Homo sapiens: one gene and its partner. The protein of the gene in region 1 interacts with the protein of each later gene in a biochemical or structural test. Each region holds a gene or a part of one and is shown on either strand. Other genes may lie near its edges.

Region 1 (7,759 bases):
TTTGACTTTTAATGATGCAACCTAAAGATATGCAGACATGCAGAAAGATGTATATACAAGGAAAAGAGGGGAAATATCAATGCGAGAACGCCCAGTAAATCATGGGTACAGTCCTGCTAGGAATATGACATAGCCATTAAAAAGTAGGGGGCAGGCCAGGAGTGGTGGCTCAGGCCTGTAATCCCAGCACTTTGGGAGGCCGAGGCGGGTGGATCACCTGAGGTTGGGAGTTCGAGACCAGCCTGGCCAACATGGTGAAACCCCGTCTCTACTAAAAATACAAAAATTAGCTGGGTGTGGTGGCACGGGCCTGTAACCCCAGCTACTTGGGATTGCAGGAGAATTGCTCCCTCCGGGAAGCAGAGGTTGCAGTGAGCCAAGATCATGCCATTGCACTCCAACCTGGGGACCAAGAGCGAGACTTTGTCTCAAAAAGAAAAAAAAAAAAAATTAGGGGGCAGATCTATTGCTGACAGAGGAAGAGTTCCAATTGTACTTAATTTTTAAAAACAAAAGCAAGTTGCAGAACCATACATACCGTCTGGTTGCACTCAGGTTAAATTTTTTTCAGGTGATCTTTGTATGTGTATGTGTGTGCGTATGTATATGTACAGAAAGGTAATCTGTAAAGACACACCCACCCTGGCCACTAGCCATGAGCCCTCCCAGGTGGGAGTGGGACATGAGGAAGACCCCAGGAGAGAATTCACATTTGCTCTACAAATTTTGTTGCCTGAGTCTTTTTTTGTTTTAACTCTTTTTTTTTTTTTGAGACGGAGTCTCACTCTGTCGCCCAGGCTGGAGTGCAGTGGCGTGATCTCGGCTCACTGCAAGCTCCGCCTCCTGGGTTCACACCATTCTCCTGTCTCAGCCTCCCGAGTAGCTGGGACTATGGGCGCCCGCCATTGCGCCCAACTAATTTTTTTTTTATTTTTAGTAGAGACGGGGTTTCACCGTGTTAGCCAGGATGGTCTCGATCTCTTGACCTCGTGATCCACCCGCCTTGGCCTCCCAAAGTGCTGGGATTACAGGCGTGAGCCACCGCGCCTGGCTTAACTTAGTTTTAAGAGCCCCTCTATGTTGCCCGGGCCGGAATGCAGTGGATATTCACGGACACAATCATCACATACTACAGCTCCGAGCTCCTAGGCTCAAATGATCCTTCTGCCTCAGCCTCCTGAGTAGCTGGGAATAAGGTGTGCACCACTGCGCTGAGCTTTGTTGCTTGAATCTTTTGTGATGAGTAAAGGAATTAGAAGAACTTTTTTTAAGGCAGAGATGCTCATTTAAGTCCCTTTCTGCATTAATTCTCAGGCTATTAAGTATATCACTGCACTGAGAGTGGCAGAGGCAATGTGTTCTTGTGGCTGTGAGAAATACCAAGCCATAAATATGAACCATCCAGTCTTGGGATCACAGACAAGGAGCAAACATGACCACTGAGCAGTTCAAGAGCCATAAACAACAGGACAGGATAAACCTGAGCAAGAGCTGCTTCTAGGGGCCATTCGCAGCACGCTTGTGGGCCTCAATACTAAGCAGCCTGCCCCAGTCCTGGCCAGGTGTTCTGTGAAACAGGGCGCAGGGAGGAAGTCCAGCGAAAGACGCCGGGGTACCTTGCATGAGCATCTCCATGGCTGTCTGTGGCTTGGGCAGCCGCCTTTCTTCCAACTCACTGTCGGATTCATCGTCCTCCTGGATGTCTATGTCCGAGTCATCGTTACCTAGCAGGAACACAAGCAGGCAAAACAAAGGAGTGGCTTCATGATCACAACGAAACAGCTCTGCCCAGTAAGGTCTGTGTGCAAAAGTCATTTGTTCATTTCTTATTCTATCCAGGAAATTAAGACATTAAATCCTTATCCCATGCAATGCAAATCAAATTATATAATCAATTTTAAAATAAAATTAATACATGTACCTCAGGCTCAATAAGATTTCTTCTTACAACTCAAACCAATACAGACCTGAGAAGTGAGCAGGTAAACTAAAGTCAATTGCTATTATATGATTTCAATGTGTCTCCGAAAAGCCTGTGTTGGAAACTTAAATCCCAATGCAACAGTGTTGGGAGGTGGGGCATACTGGGAGGTGTTTAGGTCATGAGGGCTCCGCCTTGAAGAATGGATTAATGCTGGTTATAAAAGGGCTTGAGGCTGTGAGTTTGATCTCTTGCTCTCTCTCGCCCTCTCTTTGCCCTTCTGCCATGGGATGGTGCGGCAAGATGCAGCTCCTTGATCTTGGGCTTGCTCCTAGAACTGTGGCTCATTAAATTTCAGACAAGTAAGTTTCTGATTATAATGATAATAATATAACCTAATACTAATATATTATATATGTTATATAATTGTCATATATTATTATATATAATAATATATAACTATATAACATATATAATTATAAATATAAATTTATAAATTATAAATTATATTATAAAATATATATTATATAATATATTATATAATATATTATATTATAATATATATATAATAATATAATATATATTATATAATATATAATAATATAATATATATTATATAATATATAATATATAATAATATATATAATATATAATATTATATAATATATAATATATAATATATAATAATATATAATATATAATAATATATAATATATAATAATATATAATATATAATAATATATAATATATAATATTATATAATATATAATATATAATAATATATAATATTATATAATATATAATATATAATAATATATAATATATAATAATATATAACATATAATAATATATAATTATATAATATATATAATATAATATAATTATATAATATATAATATAATATATATTATATATAATAATATATAATATAATATATATTATATATAATAATATATATGACATATATATATAAACTACACACACACACACACACATACAAAACTGGCCCTCTGTATCCATGGATTTCACATCCATGGGTTCAGCCAACCATGGATCTGAATTATTTGGAAAAAAAATCTACAAAGTTCAAAAAAGATCTACAAAGTTCCAAAAAGCAAAACTTGAATTTGCCACATACCAAGTACTATGTTGAATCCATGTGAATGAAGTGATGTATAGGCATTATGTTAGGTATTTTATGTAATCTAGAGATGACTTAAAGTATATGGGAGGATGTGCATAGGTTACATGAAAAGGACTTGAACATCTGTGGATTTTGGTATCCACAGGTGGGTTCTGGCACCAGTTCTTCGCAGATATTGAGGGATGACTGCATGTATCCATATATACAATGCTGTATATATTTTATGTAAAATATATAATTACCCAGTCTCAGGTATTCTGTTACAGCAGCACAAAACAGACTAAGACATTAATGCATGCTGACACTGAAACCACTGAGCTGACAGTGACAATTAAAATTAATGGCTGACAACATGCGAGTATAACTCAATGGGGAAATAATAGTCTTTTCCACAAATGATAATAGGACAACCGAATAGCCACATGCAAAAGAATGAAGTTGGACCCCCTGTCTCACACCATATACAAAAATTAACTCAAAGTGGATCAGAGACCTAAATGTAAGAGCTAAAACTATAGAACTCCTAGAAGAAAACACAAAGGTAAATCTTGGTGAATAAAGCAAGATCAGAATGGCAGGTCTTAGCATCCTGGCCCGGGGACAGCATGGGATGCAAGCAACAAACCAGGGCTCCTAGCTGAGCTGGGCCTCTCGCAAGGGACAAACCCCATGCAGGCTGATCACTGAGGGCTGCTTCACATGCTCCTGGCTGACATGGAACTAAAAAGGGGAGGGCTGCTTTGGCTAGACAGGCCCTTCAAATTTCCTAACCTTGTTCCTGGAGGATTTCCCAGCAGTCCCTATCCTTCCTCCAAAGTTTCCTGAGATTCAGACGAGAGAGTCACAGAACAGGTGCAAAATGAGAGAGATACAAGGGAAATGGCAAAGAAAGAGAAAGAGAGAGAGAGAGAGTGTGTGTGGGAGCATGTGTGTGGGCCTGATGCCTCAAGTATGCTGCCCTCAACATGAGAGTGAATAGAATATTTCACCCTGAAGAAAAGAAAGGGCAACCAGCAAGAGGAGGAGGAACTCCGTGCAACAAGGCCATCAATTCAGCAGGAAGATCCTGGGCTGCTACCGGTCCCTGACAGTGACTTGACACTGAAGTTCAGGGATGTAGGGTACAGCCCCACAGGGTCGGTGGGTTTTCTCCCCATGTGCAGAGATGAGAGACTGTAGAAATAAAGACACAAGACAAAGAGATAAAAGAAAAGACAGCCGGGCTTGGGGGACCACTACCACGAAGACGTGGAGACTGATAGTGGCCCTGAATGCCAGGCTGTGCTGATATTTATTGGATACAAGACAAAGGGGCAGGGTAAGGAGAGTGAGCCATCTTCAGTGATAGGTAAGGTCACATGGGTCACGTATCCACTGGACAGGGGGCCCTTCCCTGCCTGGCAGCTGAGGCAGAGAGACAGAGAGGAGAGAGAGACAGCTTACGCCATTATTTCTGCTTATCAGAGACTTTTAGTACTTCCACTAATTTGCTACTACTATCTAAAAGGCAGAGCCAGGTGTACAGGACAGAACATGAAGGCAGACTAGGAGCATGACCACTGAAGCACAGTATCACCGGGAGATGGTTAGGCCTCCGGATAACTGCGGGCGGGCCTGACTGATGTCAGGCCCTCCACAAGAGGTGGAGGAGTAAAGTCTTCTCTAAACTCCCCCGGGGAAAGGGAGACTCCCTTTCCTGGTCTGCTAAGTAGCAGGTGTTTTTCCTTGACACTGACGCTACCACTAGACCACGGTCCACTTGGCAACGGGCGGCTTCCCAGACGCTGGTGTTCCCACTAGACCAAGGAGCCCTCTGGTGGCCCTGTCTGGGCATAACAGAAGGTTTGCACTCTTGTCTTCTGGTCACTTCTCACCATGTCCCCTCAGCTCCTATATCTGTATGGCCTGTTTTTTCCTAGGTTATGATTGTAGAGCGAGGATTATTATGATATTGGAATAAAGAGTAATTGCTATAAACTAATGATTAATGATATTCATATATAATCATATCTATGATCTATATCTAGTATAACTATTCTTATTTTATATATTTTATTATACTGGAACAGCTCGTGCTCTCGGTCTCTTGCCTCGGCACCTGGGCGGCTTGCCGCCCACACAAGGATAAGGGAAGCTGCCTGGTCACAGAGAGCTCCTTCCCGGAATCTAGGCTTTGCATGGACGTAACCCTGTGTCTCTCCAGCTGAGTGTCTTGCTGAGCCATTCTGGATTATGGGGGGCATCTCAGCAGCATGGGGACCATCACAAAGCGAGCGGCCCCTCTCCCTGCACTGCATCCCAGTGCTTGCTTTCCATCATTCAGCCTGAAAATACAGAACCCTACACACATCTAGGGCCATGTTTTCTTATAGTTACGCATCATATATAATTCAAACTATCATTTAAACAGGGGAAAACACTATCTTAACTGGCACAAGAACGAAATGTGTTTTAAATGCTATATTTAAACCAGACTCTTGAGTGAATACAATGGTACCCAATATAGAAGTTGTGAGAAAACCGCCTTTTGAAAATATTTTTGTACCTATAGTCAACAATAATTTATTATACTTTTCAAAATTGAAGATGTAAAGTGAAGTGTTCTTACTACAGTAAAAAAAAAACTGCTGAAAAAAAGAAGAAAATACATATTAAAAAATATATATATATCTCTCTATATATATTTCAAGGCTGAAAATACTAGTCCAGAGTAAACTGCTCGTCTACGAAGCCCAGCCTTACTTCCACTCTTGAGCAGGCGCTTCTCTTCCTCCTTGAGCTTGTTCTGTATCAGGCAGAGAGTGTTTTTAGCTTCCTGTGGAAGAGGAAATACAGACTCAGGAGAGATGGCCCTTTTCTGGACTGTTCTATTCTTCTTCACCACTGTGTAAGGACTGCTAAGTTTGTGCTACAGAACAAAAAAAGAGCTAAACTCAAGGAAGGGGAAGAGAATTAACACTGCCTGAGCAACTCCAGGGTCCTGAAACTTACTGCCCTTTCTCTCTGCGGTTGCCTCGTGGCCTGGTGGACAGGGGCGCCCAGAGTGAAGCAGCTGCCCCACCCCATGCTTCTCCGATTGCATTTCCCTGCCTCTGAGGAGAACTAAATGCCCATCACGCATGCCTGTATGACCTGGGGACACAGAACAGACACATCTAATTTTAGGGCAGAGACAGGCCTCCTGCTTTCAAAGGAAGAAAGTATAGATTTTATCATTTATCTTTCCTGCCCTGCCTTCAGATTCCAGCTCAAAAGATGCTAAATGGTGGGACAGGTAAGGATGGGAACAGGGGTGGGGACAGGAGGAAATATCTCAGATCATAAAATGTGGCCTTGATTATTATCAAGAAAGAGAATGGGGGCTGGGCGTGGTGGCTCACACCTGTAACCCCCACGCTTTGGGAGGCCAAGGCAGGAGGATCACTTGAGCCCAGGAGTTTGAGACCAGCCTGGGCAACATAGGGAAACCTCATCTCTACAACAAATTTAAAAAATTTAGCCAGGTATGGTGGCAAGTGCCTATAGTCCCAGCTACTCAAGAAGCTGAGGTGGGAGGATCGCTTGAGCCCAAGAGGTCTGAAGCTACAGTGAGTTATAATCACACCCTGCCCTCCAGACAGAGTGGCAGGCAACAGAGTGAGACCCCGTTGAGAAAGAGAAAGAGACAAAGAGAGAGAGTGGGGGGGAGGGACAGACAGAGGGAGGAAGTTGGCTTTATATATTGTTGTTCTAAACATTAAAAATAAAGCACTGTGTTTCCGGCATGGGGTATTTCGAGGGAACAGGTATTCTAACGACAGAGAGCGAGAGTGAGTAAGAGAAAAAGAGATGTACTTGTTGAAGGAAGGGTAGGGTAGAGGGGCTCCCTGGGAAGTTTCCTGGGCCACCTACCTGCCACTCTGAGGCATACTGTTTGGTTTGTTCTCTGAACCCAGAGGTGGCCCCAGATAATACAAAAAAATGGCCAACGTTTCTTTTCACTGCCCTTGACTGTTCTTTCCCAGGTACCCAATGTTTAAAATGTTCTAAACTCCAAGCTCTTTCTAGTGCCCTCGAAATGTGCCTGTCCCGTACCATTTCTCCATGGCCTGCCTCTGCCACAGAGTAATGCTAGCAATGAATTCCTCGTCAAGATGACATGTGTCCACACGGATGCGTTAGGTACTCCCAGTTAGCCCTCCTGGACAACAAAATAGCTCTGCCAAACTCAAATGCTCAGTATTGTAAGAAGCCTAGCATAACCTTAATACCAAAAGCTGTCAAGGGCATGAGAAAGGGAGACTGCAGACCAATTTCATCATGAAAATGGAGTCTAAATGACCATTCTCAGGTTAAGGATAGGGCAATTCAAAAACTGATCACAACTTGGTTCAATTTCCTTTGCTCTAAATTCCACATTTATCAACTCATGCTCGGGTCTAAAACACTCTTTTCCTAAATGGCCTTACCCACAGGGATGAGAGGAACCTGTAAGATGGTTGGTCAGGCTCAAGGCCACACATTTATTTCCCACAATCAATAAATAAACTGCCATTCCTCTTTACAAAACAATCTCCAATGAGCTATTCTGGTGATTCAATTAACCAGGACTTGAAAATCTCTTTCTTTTTTTTTTTTTTTTTTTTTTTTTGAGATGGTGTCTTGCTCTGTCGCCCAGGCTAGAGTGCAGTGGCGCAATCTCGGCTCACTGCAAC
Region 2 (7,024 bases), on another chromosome or scaffold:
AGCCAAGGTGAGTTACAGTGTTTGATGTGTTCTGCTTAACAAGACTGGAAAGCAGGCTATACATTTTTGGATATTTTCCAACAATACGGGGAAAATAATAAAAAGCTGTGGTACAGTCATGCACCATATAATGACATTTTGGTCCAATGACAGACCACACATACGATGGTGGTCCCATAAGATTATAAGGTAGCTGCGCTATATAGGCATACCATTTTTTTTATCTTTTATACCATATTTTAAATTGTACCTTTTCTATGTTTAGATCTGTTTGGATACACAAATACTTACTATTGTGTTACAATTGCCATTGTGTTACAGTATTTAGAACGGCAACATGCTGTACAGGTTTGTGGCCTAGGAGCAACAGGCTATACCATATAACCTAGGTGTGTAGCAGGCTAGACCATCTAGGTTTGGGTAAGCACACTCCACAATGTTTGCACAATGAAAAAATCACCTAGCAATGAAGTTGTCAGCATGTATCCCCATGGTTAAGTGACCCATGTCTGTACTTCAAGGGTTAAGTTTCATCATCCAGAAACTTCCCTCTTGCAGATCCCCTTAGGAAGCTGATCACAGGAGCCATGACTAACTGCCAGCCTCTTGGCCTTGCTACTAGAATATCCACCTGGTTCACCTTCTGCTTAAAGGTTATCCATGATCTCAATCCACATGTCTAATGAGACCAAGGACAGGCAGAGCAGGACACTGGCTATAGACTCTGAAATCTAGAAATCACTAATTCAAAATGGGGCCAAACACTCTGTGGGGACAAGCCGCTAAGAAACCGGGGCCCCCGCCTTCAGCAAGCCCCTGGGGAGGTCATTTGGACCCCAAGCCAAATATGGTTGGGGAGGATACCAGTTAGCAGCTTGCTGGATCGCTCAGTGGAAACGCTAGCCTTGGAATCAGCACCACCATCATCATTGCCGAGCACGTATCACAAAGTAAGCATTGTGTGGACAAGGCAGGGGATTCCGAGACAGGCAAGTTCCTGCCTTCAAGGAGCTCATAACCTACTGAAGGAGATGTACACTGTAAGTGAAGATGATGCAACAAGAGTTAGTAGCCCTCACTAAGCACTTGGCACGTGTGTTACCTCATTTCAGCCGCACAACAATCCTGTGCTTATCATCACCATTCTAGAGATGCGGAAACTGACATCCAGCGAAGGTAAATCATTTACCTAACGTCTTCAGCTGGCAAGTGGTGGAGCCAGGATTGATACTCAAGCTTTGACGTCAGAGGCCATGCCTGCAGTCCCCACGACCAGTGCAACGGACAGCACAGATAAGGGCCATGGGGGAACACGCAGGTGAGGAGCTTGGGGGTGGGACTCTGGGGTCCAGGGTGGGCTTTGGAAACTGCTGGATGCAGGTTGTAAAATTGCTCTGCTGCTCCTTCACCAGGGGGAACCCTGAGGCTCCACTGTTTTCTAAAGCAAAGGAGGGCTATGATGCCTCCATTAAGGAGCGTTGTGAAGATGAAGGGAGCCGACCTAGGGAGGGTGCACAGCACCATCTTGGGCATGTTCCACTGGACCAAAGGCGACCAGAGAGAGCACATGAGCTTTTGTGGGGAGGCTGTGGTCAGGAAAGGGCTTCACGGAAGAGGTGGCTTTTAAGATGGGCCTTGAAGGATCAGTCATTTTGGCTTAACTTCAAGGAAGAGAGCAGGGTGGGGCAGGCATGGGCAAAGACACTGGAGATGAAAAAGCTGGGGCCCATCTGGGGAGCAAGCTGGCTGCAGCCCAGGGAGAGAGCTGGAGAGTAGATTGGGACATGGCTAGAAAGGAAGGTGAGTCCACATTTCAGCTGGCAGGGCAATGACCTCTGCCCATGTTTACTGAGATCCACTCTGGGTATGTGCCAGACACCAGGCATTATCAGGTCTGTCCTTTGAAGACATCCTCTTTATAGAAGGTCGGGCACAAAGGCAGCAGAGGCACAGCAATGGACTGGCGCCTTCCTTTCCTCCTCTCCTGCCTCCCCCTGGGGCTGGGCATTACACAACACTGGAGAGCAAAAGGCAGGTACTGCTGACGTTAACTGCATGTACTGCTGACATTAAACAGACCGCCATTTCACTGTGCACTGGCAAAGGCGCGCGTGCGTGCGCACACGCACACACACACACACACACACACACACACACGGTGAGAAGCCAATTTGATTCTCCAAAGGATTGTATAATTCTTAGGTGATTTTAAAATAGCTGATGAAGAATCCACTTTAATCTTTTTTGGGTGGGTGATGAAGGGCTGAAGAGCATCGCTAAGACACTTTTGACAGAATCATTAACAAGAAATAAGCCGTCAGCACTCAGTTGCAAAACCAGCAGCTCCTAAAACCACCATCTTTTACACATTCCGAGGGCCACAGAGGCTTCCTGGATGACCAGAGTGTGTGAGGGGGCAACCCAAAGAAGAGGCCTGGCCCAGACCAGGCCCTCCCCAGCAACTCCCACGGGTCACAGACTTCCCTTCTGAGACGAGCAGAAACACCACCACTGACATGATCTTCTTTCACGACCCATGGAGGAGCAATTCACCTTGGAGAGAATCAGAAGACATTAGAACTGGAGGGAGGGAGGAAAGCAAGGAAGTGTAGGCAGGCAAGTTTGCAGGTCTGATGGCAGAAGGCTGAGGAAGTTTCCATATGATGGCTTCTATTTTCTCTCTGAAGAGGGCAGTAAAGGTATCTTCTAAGAGGGAGGAGGGAGGGAGGTGGGAGAGGGAGAGGTGGGAGGTTTCGCAAGCAAAACAACGTTTTGAAATAGCCATTGAGAAGAAAGGAGAGGCTGGGCGAGGTGGCTCATGTCTGTAATCTCAGCACTTTGGGAGGCTGAGGCGGGAGGATCACTTGAGCCCAAGACTTCAAGACCACCCTCAGCAACATGGCAGAACCCCATTCTACAAAAAATAATAAAAATTAGCCAAGCATGGTGGTGCACGCCTGTAGTCCCAGCTACAAGGGAGGCTGAGCTGGGGAGGTCCAGGCTGCAGTGAGCTGTGATTGCACCACTGCACTCCAGCCTGGGTGAAGGGGCGAGACCCTGTCTCCCCTTAAAAAAGGAAGAAAAAGAAGAAAGGAGGGAGAGAGAACCCAGTGGTCGGTTGGGGATGGAAGTGCAGGGCTGAGAGTCTAACTGAGGTTAGAGACCTCGTGTTTCTGTTACACCAAGGTGTGTGGCTGGCCAAGACTTCTTCAATACCCGTGTGTAGGTGGACTGGTTTGGCTTCAGGTTTCATCAGATGGAAGGAGAGTAGGACTCGGGCAGGGAGGATCCTTTTGAGAATGCCGAGGTAATGGGCCAGGATAGGGAAGAAGCAGATTGATATCGAGGGGGAAAGCGGAGACAGCAATGGACAGGAAACCCAAAGATGGTGAAAAACAGATACAGCGGAAGTGACTCAAGTGGCTGGAAGTGGAAGAGATTGTGGCTGGGGACATCAAAGGAGGTGCAGATGCTGTTGATAAGGTTCCCAGTGTGGCCCCGGAGTGGGAGGCTGATGTGAAAAGAGGTCAGGGAACTGGCGCTGAAAGGGCTGTACTGAGGATGGGGGCCCTGCTCCCCGCAACTCAGATACCCTAGAAGCATCCACTCAGAGTTTAGGGTTCCGAGAATCCATCAGTCCCACAGCCTCATTTTAAAACCAGGGACACTGAGAGGGTCAGGGCCTGACCCAAGGTGAGAAACGGATTTTGAGACTAGTGGTGCTGCTCCCCGCTCCTCCATGCCCCGGCCAGGGCTCTCCCTCTCCCAGACACTCTCCCCCAGAGAGAAACAGAGGCGGTGACGCTAGGAAGAGGAGGAGAGAAGGAGGCCGCGGGTCCCTGTCGCCTCCAGGCCAGGCAATCCACTCCAGGCTCGCAATCCACCGACCTGGAGTTCACGGCCTCCGCCCTCCTGGCCCAGCGGCCCCCACCCGACCCCACCCGACCCCACCCGACCCAGGCCGGTTCCGGTCACGCCGGAAGCACGTGGCCCCCCACCCTGCGGCGTTGCCCGGGAGACCAGGGTTGTTTACCAGCAGGACAGAGCCCGGGCGCAGGCGGCGGATGGAGCGGAACGGCTAGGTGAGAGCGGCTGCCCGATCCCGCGGCCTGCCCTTGGCCTCCGCCAGGCCTGGAAGGGGCCGGGGGAGGCCAGTCCCCGAGACCCCAGCACATCACCCGGGAGGGCCTCCCCAGACCCAGCCCGGGGGACGCAAACCCCGGGAGACAGGCGAGGAGCCTGGAGAAAAGTCTGCTCCCGAGGCAAAGCAAGCCTGGCCAGAGCTCACCTTTACCAAAATAGGGTGACTCCCGGGCTCTGCAGAAACCGAGGGACCTATGCAACCGCTGGGCCATGCCCTCCAGGCTGGGATGTAGCGACGGGGACACAGACCCAGGGAGAGAAAAGGATGTCCCAGTCTCCGGCAGGGCAGAGACGAGAACCAGAGGGCCCCTCCCCCAGTCCTGTGCTCTTTCTCTGAAGTCAATTCTCGCTTTCTAAACGCTCTTTCTCGCCCCTCCCCCAGATCCCTCCTCTGCCTCTTAAGCCTGTTGCCTTCTAGGGCGCTGGAACTTGGACTTAATTGAGTTATCCCCACCACCTCCCTGCCCTTCTGACGCTGGAATCATCCCCAGTTCTCTATCCAAACATTTGATCACTTGGTGGCTTGTGGTTCAGTGTGGCACTCTGCATAGGACAGTGTATTCTAATCCCTAGTTTGGGGTAGAACTGGGAATGGTACCAGAGTTTTTTCATTCTCAGGCCAACCACCATCTCCTGTTGGTTCTTCAGAGCATTTTTATCCTGAAAGCCTGGTGGGGGTGTGGGTTGGGGGGGGCGGGATGGCAACGGATAGGATTAACTGATACAGTTTTAAAAGACCAATTCAAATGTATGTATCTTGGTATATACCAGCAGATGGTATGTAGGTGGTTATATTTTACTGCATATACTGTAGGCTTAGATTTGGGTTGTGAGTGAAATAGGGTGGTCTGACCCTGTGGTGGGTGGTGGGCACCCTTAGAAAGCAGGAGCCCTGCTTTAGCTTCTCCTATCCACATTTCCTTCTTTCCAGTTGATTTGGTGGTGAATCTTAAGGAATGGGCACCTGCCCTTCTGGCAACTTCTTGGAAACAGTTGGCAGTGTTTGCTTCCTGACTCCTAGCAGGCCGCTGGGGTGCAGCTATTGTGTTTAAGTAAACAGGCCACTCGCCTATTCAGCTTGGCAGCTTGATAGATGCCTACGCCTAGATCTTGTCAAATCGGTTTGTGGTTGAGTGGCTGCCAGGCCTAGAGGTGGTGAAGTGAACTGAGCAGGGAGAATCATGGCTGCTGCCTCAATCCTGGACTGAGGGTGGTGGGCAGAGTTCAGGACCTGAGGTGTGAATATAAAGGCACAGTTGGCCCAGATCCCCAAACACCTGTTTCCCCCACCGCCCATCCCTGTGTGATGGGTGCTGGGGAGAGCTGGTGTTCCCTCCGTGTAACAGATGGTCCCTGTGCTCGGGAGGAGGCAGTGGGTTATGAAAGCAGGTTGGATATAATGGTTTTACCTGAAGGAGGTGTTAGTCTCTAAATAACCATGAGTGGGCTCCTAGGAATTAGTCATAATTGAGGTTTTTCTCTGAGATAGCTCACAGTCATGTTATCTTATGACCAGGGTGTCTTGAATATGACACCCCCTGAACATGGATAATTATATGGAACCAAAAGGTATAGAAAGTGCATGCACATACTCAAGTTTTACTGTTAAAAATAATCCCACAGAGAGCCTGTGAGAACACATGACTCTCCTCATCAAAGTTGTTAAGGAAGAGGTTTCTAAGTTACCAAACTCACTGACAGTTAAACCTTCCTGAGGCATGTGTGGGTGTTGGAAGCCAAGCCTGTGATAATTCTGTAGAAGCTGTGGCAAATTAATAGCCATTCCACAAGTGGGGAGGGTGGGCCGAGAGGGGCGTGGGTTTGCCTGTGGAGCTTATCTTTGGCAGAACAGTTGGACAGTTATGACCTTCTCCTGCCATCCTGAGTGAAAGTGCAGAGCTGCTAATTGCCAGAGAAAGACTTGAGAAGGAGACTAAAGGGGGAAAAACACATTCTTCACAGTTGATCAGAAAATAGATGAAATTAACAAGGAGATGGGCAGTCTTTTTTGATGCCAAAAGTTTGCTAAGGAGAAGGCTCCTGAGCTACTAGCAGCCAGACTGGGTGTGAAAGACGAGGGAGAAGTGGAAAATGGGAGTGGAGAGAGACTCAGGCTGTGAGTGGAATGCAGCAGACATAGAGGCCTTTAAAAGAGGGTAGCTTTGTCCAAGATTTTGAATTGAGCAGGACATCAGGAAGATATAGGGATAATGTGTTGCGTTTGGTCCTGGTCTGAGTGGAGAGGAAGCAGATACTCCTTAAAATTAGGCAGCAGTGGTTACATGTGCAGAATGGTGAGGTTAGAATACAAACCCTGAGAGGCTCAGATTACATTGTTCAAGATTTTGTGATGAAAGGAGTGAATTTGCAGGAAGTGCAAATCATTCTGCAGGAAGTGAATCTGAGGTAAGTAAAATGTGGAATTAGAAGAGAAGTGATCAACTCGGGATTTTATTTTCACATGTTTTGAGGCAACTGCGTAGGTGGTAGCTCATTGCAGTCCACCTCCCTGCATTTCTGTGCAGTGGACAGGGCAGGCATGAGTTTCAGGACTCACCCAGCTGGTTAACCAGGAGTAGAATCACCGAGGACACACGGGGAAAAGTTCTAGAGCAAAACAAGGAAGGCTTTTGAACTTAGCACATAGGAAGCACTAAACAGACAACCCGAAGCAAACAACGACGACAACAAAAAACGCTTAACATTTAATTAAGTTTCTACCATGCACTAAGCCTGGTGCTTCCCACCTTACCTACATTATTTCATGTTATTATCCTCATGTTACAGACAAAAAGACTGATGTTCTGAGGTACTTAAGTAATACCTCTAAGATCATTTAGCTAATTTGATAGATGAGGAAAGTTTTGTGCCAGAAAGGTAG

The links. Proteins that work in one complex are often made in the same cells at the same time.
Region 2: the proteins of CLUAP1 (region 1) and UBXN10 form a complex in vitro, tested with the Homo sapiens proteins (one study listed by BioGRID).

The regions. Positions count from the first base shown.
Region 1 is NC_000016.10:3,524,533-3,532,291, reverse strand, and holds part of CLUAP1 (clusterin-associated protein 1), read right to left. Parts: intron 5,881-7,759; coding exon 5,808-5,880; intron 1,725-5,807; coding exon 1,617-1,724; intron 1-1,616. UniProt on the Homo sapiens protein: Required for cilia biogenesis. Appears to function within the multiple intraflagellar transport complex B (IFT-B). Key regulator of hedgehog signaling.
Region 2 is NC_000001.11:20,182,072-20,189,095, forward strand, and holds the start of UBXN10 (UBX domain-containing protein 10), read left to right. Parts: upstream 1-4,024; 5' UTR 4,025-4,082; exon of another isoform or gene 4,083-6,549; intron 6,550-7,024. UniProt on the Homo sapiens protein: VCP/p97-binding protein required for ciliogenesis. Acts as a tethering factor that facilitates recruitment of VCP/p97 to the intraflagellar transport complex B (IFT-B) in cilia.